Regions from separate parts of the Homo sapiens genome. Here region 1 is linked to region 2. The links come from fine-mapping of genetic effects on gene expression. A gene starts in region 2. The other region holds a variant in brackets. All regions are shown on one strand. Distances are from middle to middle. Region 1 overlaps LOC105375567 (a long non-coding RNA gene). Region 2 holds the start of TMEM176A (transmembrane protein 176A).

Region 1 (4,386 bases), 21 kb after region 2:
AACACAGACAATACCAGATGTTGGCCAGAATGCAAAATGGTACAGTCACTCTAGAAAATGCTTTGGCAGCTTCTTCCAAATTTAACCCTACATCTTATGACTCAGTGATCACACTCCATGATATTTACCCTAAAAAATTAAAGCTCATGTTTACACAAAAATCTGTATGTGAATGTTTATAGCAGCTCCATTTATAATTACCAAAAAACTGGAAGCAACACAAATGTCCTTGCATGGGTGAATGGATAAACTGTAGGAACATCCATACACTGGAATACTACTAGCAATAAAAGGAATAAACTATTGATACACACAATCACATGAATGATGTGGGGGTTGGGGGTGTTTCTGGGGCAATGAGCTATTCCTTGATTTGGTGATACATTAAGTTTGTTTTATAATTATTCACACAACTATATATGCTTAATGTTCATTTGTATGTATATTTTATAATTAAAAAGAAAACTGAAGAACCCAAAATTCTGTCAAAGTCAAATATCTTTAGACAAATCTTGAGGACAAAGGGAATGGAAATTCCATCAAAGTGGTGCAATGACCTGAGTAGGAGTTTACAGATTATAATCTTAACATCATTATGCTGAGGTAAAGAGGCCAGTCCCCAAAGGTTACGTACTGCATGATTCCACTGATATGATACTCTCAAAATGGAAAAATTATAGTGATGGAAAACAACTCAATGGTTCCCTGTGGTTAGGGCTGGGAAGAGCATGTGACTGAAAAAGGGACCCCCCAAGGAAGATTTGTGGGGTGACAATACTGTTCTTTATCCTGATCATGGTGTTGGTTACATGAATCTGTACATATGTTAAAATTCACAAATTGTACACAGAAAAAATGATGAGTTTTGCTATAATAATAATTGATAATGATAAGAATCTAAAATAATAATGAGTTTGAGATGAATTTGCCTGTCTCTATCTCAACGTCCCAAAGTTATCTCCAGATGGGAATATTCATTTTCCCCATCAAAACAGGAACTTCAAGCCTGTGGTTTAGATGTGTTTTCAAATACACAAATTGCTTTTGAATTTTTATTTTGAATGAAAGGTTGCGGTGGCACGACATCTGATTTCCTACAGAAGAGAAAACCCGAGACATGGGACTTTCCGAGGCAGTTTGGGAGGGGGCAGGGTGGCTGCAGGGAGAGAAGCTGGGAAGCTGGGAGAAGGCCTGAGAAGTGGGGTGGAGGGGAGCTGCTTTCCCAGACTCTGACCCTCCAGACACGAGACACAAAGGAGGTTGCCAGATTCTGAGAGTAAAAGACCATTTTCCAGCAGAAGGAAAAACTGGGTTGACATTCATTTATCTGACTGAAGAATGGTAAGAATTTACATCCAACCTAACCATTAAAGGACTGATTTAGAAGCACTTAGAAGAAAAATTCATACCTTCTTTAGCCTGAGAAAGTAATTTACCAGGTCTTTATTTCAGTTTTACTCTGCCAATGTTTCTTAGGACCTTAATGATTAACAAGTTCAAAAACAGAATTAGAACAAGATTAATTTTAAATTCAAAAGCCTGGTTCCGTATCACAAGCCAGCTAGATGTGATTAATTCTGCCGCCTAGGGGCTACAAAAAGTTTTCCCCAGGGAAAGAAATAGAAAAGAAAACATTAACTCTTTCATGAAATTATGTGAAAAATATTAATTCATTAATTGAACAAATGTGTATTAATATCTCTCATGTGGCAGGCACTGTCAGCACTGGAAAGGGAACTGTGAACAGGTTGGACAGTCCCCTGCCTCCCCCAACCCACAGTGACGTTGAGGAGTGAGGGCCAAAAAGCCATGACATTTTCCAGTCTTCGTCTGGCGCGCCCCAGGCTACCTGCTCTGCTCCAGCCAACTAGTCAGAATCACACCATTACATCCCCCAGGCCCCAGAGTTACAGGGCAGGCAGGGTTTTTCCTACTGTTTCACTGTCTTCAGCCAGTTTCTCCTTGTCCCACCTCATCGGCTAGGACACACAATTCAGCAAACAGGATTTCCAGTTCTGAGCTGGAGCCAACCCCCGTCACAGCCCACCCTAGCTGAACATCCACCGTGATGCTGGCCTACTCCTGCCCCAACCCTGGCCCAGTGAGATGCAGGGCTGCCGATTCATTAGGAAGACCCTCTGCACTTGAAAGAACAGTGTGGAAACAATCTACAGGAAAGGATCTTCTTGAAAACATGAGTGCTACCCTACAAAGAGCCCAGGAGTGGCCTCTCCTCCCTCCCCCACCCAGTCAAGGCTAGGGGCACAGAGAAACCTGCCTCCTCCCCAGCAGAGGCAATGTGACCCAGGGCCCAAAGTAGAATGCCCTGAGAATGCAGCCCCAGTCCCCCAGCACAATCTGGTCACCTTTAGCCTCAAAGACAAGGATTTCTCAAACAAGACATAAAAAGCACCAGCCATAAAGAAAAGGACTGATAAGTCCAAATCCACTAATGTTAAAACTTTCTGATTCTCAAAAAACGAAGGAAGGAAATGAAAAGATAAGCCACATAATCTGATAAAATATTAGTCAACACATAAATAACAAAGGACCAATTCCAGAAGGTGTTAAATTGAATCATA[T/C]GAAACTGCCATTTTTTGTAAGTCAAAAATGGTCAAGTGTCAGCAATTTCACATGAAGAATTCTTAAAAATCATTAAGGCGGACAACCCAACAGAAAAAATTGCCAAAGATCTGACACTGTACATAAGAGGAAGCCCAAATGGCCAATAAATAGTGGAAATGTGTTCAACCTCATCAATAAACCAGGTAGTCAAATTAAAACCTCAATAAGATAACATGAACTAAATCCACAATATTCCACAAAAATTAAAGTCTGGCAATACCAAGTGTTGGTTAGGATGTGGAGCAATGGGAACTCTTGTACACTGCTGGCAGAAATGTAAACTGGTACAACCACTTTGAAAAACAGGCATGAACTAGCAAAGTTGAAATATATGACTTATGACTCCACCATTGCATTTCAAGGTATACACCCAGATACACGAATTACCAAGGTCATGTGTGCAGAAAGGATTATAAATACATTGTTCATAATATCCCCAAACTAGAAACAAGACTAATATCCATCATCATTAGAATGAATACACCCATTGTTGCAAATTCCTAGAGTAGAAAATTACACACTAATGAACAACCTACAACTACATAAAATTAAGAAAAATAAATAAGACAAAAAAATTATCTTTGGTAAGACCCTGTTTATAGAAAGTTCAAAACAGACGAAACCAACTTATATCCTTCAGGAATGCCTACAAAAAAGGAAAAAAATCTAGAGAAAAGCAAAAAAGTAATTTGCACAAGAGGTATTATATGGCTCATTTCTGGAGAGAGGGAGAAAGGGAGGGGTTGTTATTAGGGGACTGGGGTTGCTTCTGGGGCAATGAGCTATTCTTTGATTTGGTGATACATTAAGTTTGTTTTATAATTACTCACACAACTACATATGCTTAATGTTCATTTGTATGTATATTTTATAATTAAAAAGAAAACTGAAGAACCCAAAATTCTGTCAAAGCCAAATATCTTTAGACAAATCTTGAGGACAAAGGGAATGGAAATTCCATCAAAGTGGTGCAGTGACCTGAGTAGGAGTTTACAGATTATAATCTGACATGAAAATCAGAAATTATATGAACCAAATCTAAGAGGGACAGCTAAATGGCCACCGCCTTTAAGTAACAATGTCCCTCTTTTAGACTCTAAATAGGATTCAAGGGATCCCAGTAGTGTCACATAGATGTAGACACATCCCAACAGTATTCTCTAGTTAAGAAGTTCAGCAAGATGGAAACTCATTTCCCAAAATCAAGAACCACAACTTACAAAGAGAAATTATATGCTGAGCAGCACTTTTGAGGCAGGAGATGGTAGAGAGGGAACCAGAGACTGGATACAGGAAGAATGAGTGAGAGCATGAGAGCAGAAGCAAGGTGAAGGGGCGAGTGAGCAAGAAGTGAGATATGAAGCAGAGGCTGAGCAGCCAAAACAAAAGTGAGATTTTAAAAAAGTGAGTAAGGAGCCCACATGGCCGCCTAGATCTGGACCAAACCTGTCAGGGGCAGCTCCTCAGAGATGAGCATGCACGTTAGACAGAAAACATATCCTTAAAATGTTCCCGTATGGTAATTAGCTACTTAAGGTTCATGCATATGGACTGCATATTATGCACGTACTTAAAATTATGGGATGGAGGTGACTCGCAAGAAGTCACAAGCGCACACGGGCCATAGTATTAAATAACTAAGCAGCCCACCTGTCCATCAAAAGGCAGACACTGGCTAGACATCAGGCAGTCTTGGCCACAGAAGAGAAAAAATATATAAAAGAATTCAAAGTACACCAAATTGACGTTGATCTCATTTCG
Region 2 (4,386 bases):
GTATATCTCAACGAGTTTTGACAAATTTACACATTTGTGCAATTACAGCTACAATCAAGATAAAGGACATTCCTACACAGCAATACATTCCCTAAAGCCCCTCCCCAGAAAATACCCCCAACCACTGGCCATGAGCAACCACTGACCTGCTTTCTGTAATGATTTCCATATATTTTTAATCCATGGTTTTCTTTTATTTCATTTTTTTATTATGTATTTATTTATTTATTCATTTTTTGAGATGGAGTCTCGCTCTGTCGCCCAGGCTAGGGTGGCGCGATCTCGGCTCACTGCCAGCTCCACCTCCCGGGTTCACGCCATTCTCCTGCCTCAGCCTCCCGAGTAACTACAGGCGCCCGCCATCAAGCCCAGCTAATTTTTTGTATTTTTAGTAGAGACGGGGTTTCACCGTGTTAGCCAGGATGGTCTCGATCTCCTGACCTCATGATCCGCCCGCCTCGGCCTCCCAAAGTGCTGAGATTACAGGCGTGAGCCACCGCGCCCGGCCAGTTCTCTTTTTTTAGAGAGAGAGATGGGGTGTTGCTTTGTTGCCCAGGGTGGTCTCAAACTCCTGGACTCAAGCAATCCTCCCACCTCAGCCTCCCAAAGTGCTGCAATTACAGGTGTGAGCCACCACGCCTGGCCCATAGTTCTCTTATTATGAGTGAGGTTGGTTGTCTTTTCATATGTTCAGGGCCATTTTTATTTCTTCTTTTGTGAGCTCTCCGTTCACATCCTATGTCCTTGTTTCGTTTTGTTTTGTTTTGCTTTTTTCTATGGAAGTTCTTTATCTATTCACAAAATTACCGTTTGTGATATGAGTTTCAAATGTTTCTTTACAATTTGAAGTTTATTTTTTGACCTTGCTTGTATATTCATACAATCCATGTTCTATTTCATTCTATTTATGGTGTCTAGCTCTTACACTTTTAAAGGACTTCCCCGTTTCGAGATTATAAAATAATCTTCCACATTTTCTTCTAAGTGCCTTTATGCTTTCAGTTTTCACTTTTAAATGCCGACCATCTGGAATTTGGGAGCTGGGTGACCAACCTTCGCCGTTGGGAGACACGGATCCAAGTTCTGTTGCTGTCATTCAGATGTTTAACTTCTGAAAGATACGTTCCATTTGCGGAAAATACATCCTCTTTTTCTCAGTGATTTAAAATTCTCTCCTGAGCAGAAATGAAGTTCCCCTAGGAATGTAGGCCTATTCTAGTCCTTATATTCTGCCCATTGGCATGTCTCATGGGCTAGGCATCATTACCACAATTTTAACATGGAGCTTAATGCTAATTGGGCTGTTTCATGATCCCCTCGTGTGGTTTTTCTTTCAGAATTGTCATGGCCATTTTTGCTAGACTACTTCTTCACATGCACTTTAGAATCAGCTTGCCTGGCTCTAAAATAAATCCTGCATAGGCAATTCTAATGGACATCCTGGCTAAGTATCACAGTTTAAATCAAATATTATTAACAATTCTAATAACACCTCCCATTCGTACTCTACCTACTTTTCAAAGCAGTTTCACTCTTTCACCCACCTGGCCTCCTTGGGGTTAGAAAGGACAGGAGTTAGACAATTCCGCACACGTACAAAGGAGCTTCAGACTGCTTCCAGCCCAGCCCCAGATTCCAGCCAGACCTTCCCTTGACGGCCCAGGCCTCGCCCTGAGGGCACCTCGGGTTCCAGCTACCTCCGGGCCCCCAGGACCACCGCTTCCCCCGCCCCACGCCAACCCCTAGATCTGCCTCGCCCCCGCCTGAAGAGTCGGATCTGAACCAGGCCGGCACCACGGAGATTCCCCTGCGGGCCGCCCGACGCCTGGTAGGTGGTGGGCTCTTCCCGGCTGCCCCGAACACTTTCCTCTGTCCAGCTCTTCCCGTGCCCCGGGGCTGGGGAAAGCGTCCGGCAGCCCCGCCGCTCCCTGGCCCCGTCCCAGGAGCCACCCCACCGTAGGGCTCCAGCCAGGGTCCAGGCGTGCAGGCGGCAGAAGGTGGACGGGACGCGCCAGCCCCAGGCCTCTCCTCCCGCTCTCCAGCCGTTTTTCTGGGGAGAAACACCTGCACCCAGCTGTCCCTCCCTCCTACGTGAGTCCTCCTGGAAACCAGGTTGGAGGAAGAAAGACGTCCTGTGGACAGGACGGGGTGGGGGCATGGCCCTGGGGACTCCTCGTGACAGAGGGTCCTGCGGCAAGAGGGTCTCCCGGGCCGCGGAGGCCCTGCCTCACCTGCAGTCCTCCGGGAGCCCGCGGCCGAGCAGAGCGGACACTAGCTGACCCCGAGCAGGGGAGCGACGGGAGGGCGGAGACGGCAGATGCACGGGTGGGGGCTGCGGCCCCGCCCAGGCTGCGCGGTTTCCCGAAACCAGCTGCGGCCCGGGGGCCCGGCAAAGGGGGTTCCGCCCGGAGGAGCGGACCGGGCGGGAGAAGACCGAGCCCCCGCGCGCCCCCTGCGCTCCCACTCGCGCACACTTGCACGCCGGCCCTGGCCGGGCGGGGCTGGAGGCGAGAACGACCCCACGGGCTTTCCCAGGGCCGTCCGCCCGCGGACCCTCCCAGCTCCCCAGAGCCCAGTGACCCTCGCGCAGCAGGAGAACCCCAGACGGACCCCAGGCCCTGCAGCCTGTCATGAACCCGAGGGGCTGAAGTTCAGCCCCACCCCCGCCTCCCCTCCCCGCCTCCCCCTCCAACTCTCAACCCACTTCTCCAGCCAGCGCCCCAGCCCTCCCGCCGCCCGCTCGCAGGTCCCGAGGAGCGCAGGTGAGGCGGCACCCCACTCCCGGCGGCCCCCGGGCCTCCTTCCGCACGCACCCCGAGCTGCCTCCGCACAGTTGGAGGAGCGTAGGAGGGACCCCCACCCAGGGATGACACTCCAGGAAGGGGACTGCAGAGGAAGCCAGGTGCGGCCCCGGCTTTTGACCTACCTCCGCACCGCAGCGCGGTCCTTCACGGGGCAGGGGCGGCGTGAACCCGTCGGGCGTGAGCAGCAGTCGGTGGAGCGGGAGGTCGGCGGTGGCGGGGATGGGGGTATCCGGAGCGCAGCCGGGGCGCAGCTGCTGGCACAGGAGCTCCACAGGCAGCCAAGGACTCGGTCCTGTCCCAGAGCCTGCGGACTGTGGAGGGGAGGCCGCAGGAAGAGCCCGGGAGGAGGGGGTGAGGGGTCGAGGTGTGGGGCGCTGCTTGACCCAGACGCCAGGGCCCTGGGAGGAGGATGAGGGGGACAGAGCAGATCTTGGGCGAAAGGGGAGGTTCCCGCAGGCTCTGTAGTCGCCGCAGTTCCAGCATGGTCAGCACCCCCTCTGCTACACACATTCCCCTCGTGAGGGGCCAGGGGTGCGGCCCTGTGACCAGGACAGCCATTCATTGGGTGACTTTGAGCCACCACTGGCCCCTGACCTCCCCAACTCCAATGAAATCTGCGAAAATCTTCTGACAGCCGTTCCTCTCTGGTGCTCCCTTCCTCATAGACTGTGTCCCTGACAATGGGAACAGCCGACAGTGATGAGATGGCCCCGGAGGCCCCACAGCACACCCACATCGATGTGCACATCCACCAGGAGTCTGCCCTGGCCAAGCTCCTGCTCACCTGCTGCTCTGCGCTGCGGCCCCGGGCCACCCAGGCCAGGGGCAGCAGCCGGCTGCTGGTGGCCTCGTGGGTGAGTGTGACGGCCTGCCTCGTCGGGCGGCGGGAGGAACTCCCCACCTCCAGCCGCAGCAGCACTCTCTGCCAGCCTCCCTCTGAACAGGACACCGAGCCAGTTATGTCTTCTTACTTAGCGATGTGATTCTCTGGCCTTCTCAGTAAGAGCCTGGGGAGGGGAGGCTCTGGGCTGAAGGGGTGTGGAGGAGCCACTGACCATGCAGAGTCCCAATCAGTGGAGCCCTGAGTCCATCCTTTCCTCTGGGCCAAACTCAGGATGGGCCGGCTCTCCTCTCCTTCCTTTCCCTTCTCTTTTCTCCTCCTCCTGCCTCTTCTTCTTTCTCCTTCTCCTCCTCTTTCTTCTCCTTTTCTCTTCTCTTCTCTTCTCTTCTCTTCTTTCTTTCTCTCTCTCTCTACCTCTCCCTCTCTTTTTGGGGTTTTAGCGGTTAATCCCTGCAGTGGCAGGTCCACCTAGGAGCCGGGATCTTGGGTCCTTTGTCTTTCAGGTGATGCAGATCGTGCTGGGGATCTTGAGTGCAGTCCTAGGAGGATTTTTCTACATCCGCGACTACACCCTCCTCGTCACCTCGGGAGCTGCCATCTGGACAGGGGCTGTGGTGAGTAGAGCAGGACAGTGCTTGACTGCCTGTGAGAGGGGTGGGGCATTGCTCTCCTGATTGCCTTCCTCCAACATGGCGCCACAGAATGCTGGCAGTCGGAGAGATCTGATTATCTAGGACCATT

The links. PIP is the estimated chance that this variant, and not a neighbour inherited with it, causes the effect.
Region 1: its variant is the best candidate, but not a certain one, in a credible set for the expression of TMEM176A in blood mononuclear cells (TOPMed, PIP 0.80).

What each region holds. Positions count from the first base shown.
Region 1 is chr7:150,819,186-150,823,571 of GRCh38, forward strand. It overlaps LOC105375567 (a long non-coding RNA gene), which reads right to left. Exons shown (of 5, transcript XR_928171.3): 5 at 1-4,386. Among named protein-coding and RNA genes, the nearest start is that of TMEM176A, 21 kb to the left of the region's middle. The variant T/C (reference allele first, on the strand shown) is at 2,583.
Region 2 is chr7:150,798,067-150,802,452 of GRCh38, forward strand. TMEM176A (transmembrane protein 176A) reads left to right here and starts at 2,703. Exons shown (of 7, transcript NM_018487.3): 1 at 2,703-2,762; 2 at 3,470-3,658; 3 at 4,149-4,259. The coding sequence starts at 3,485. TMEM176B (transmembrane protein 176B) reads right to left here and starts at 2,298. Exons shown (of 7, transcript NM_001101312.2): 1 at 2,232-2,298. RefSeq lists enhancers at 1,295-1,994, 1,995-2,694, 2,695-3,394.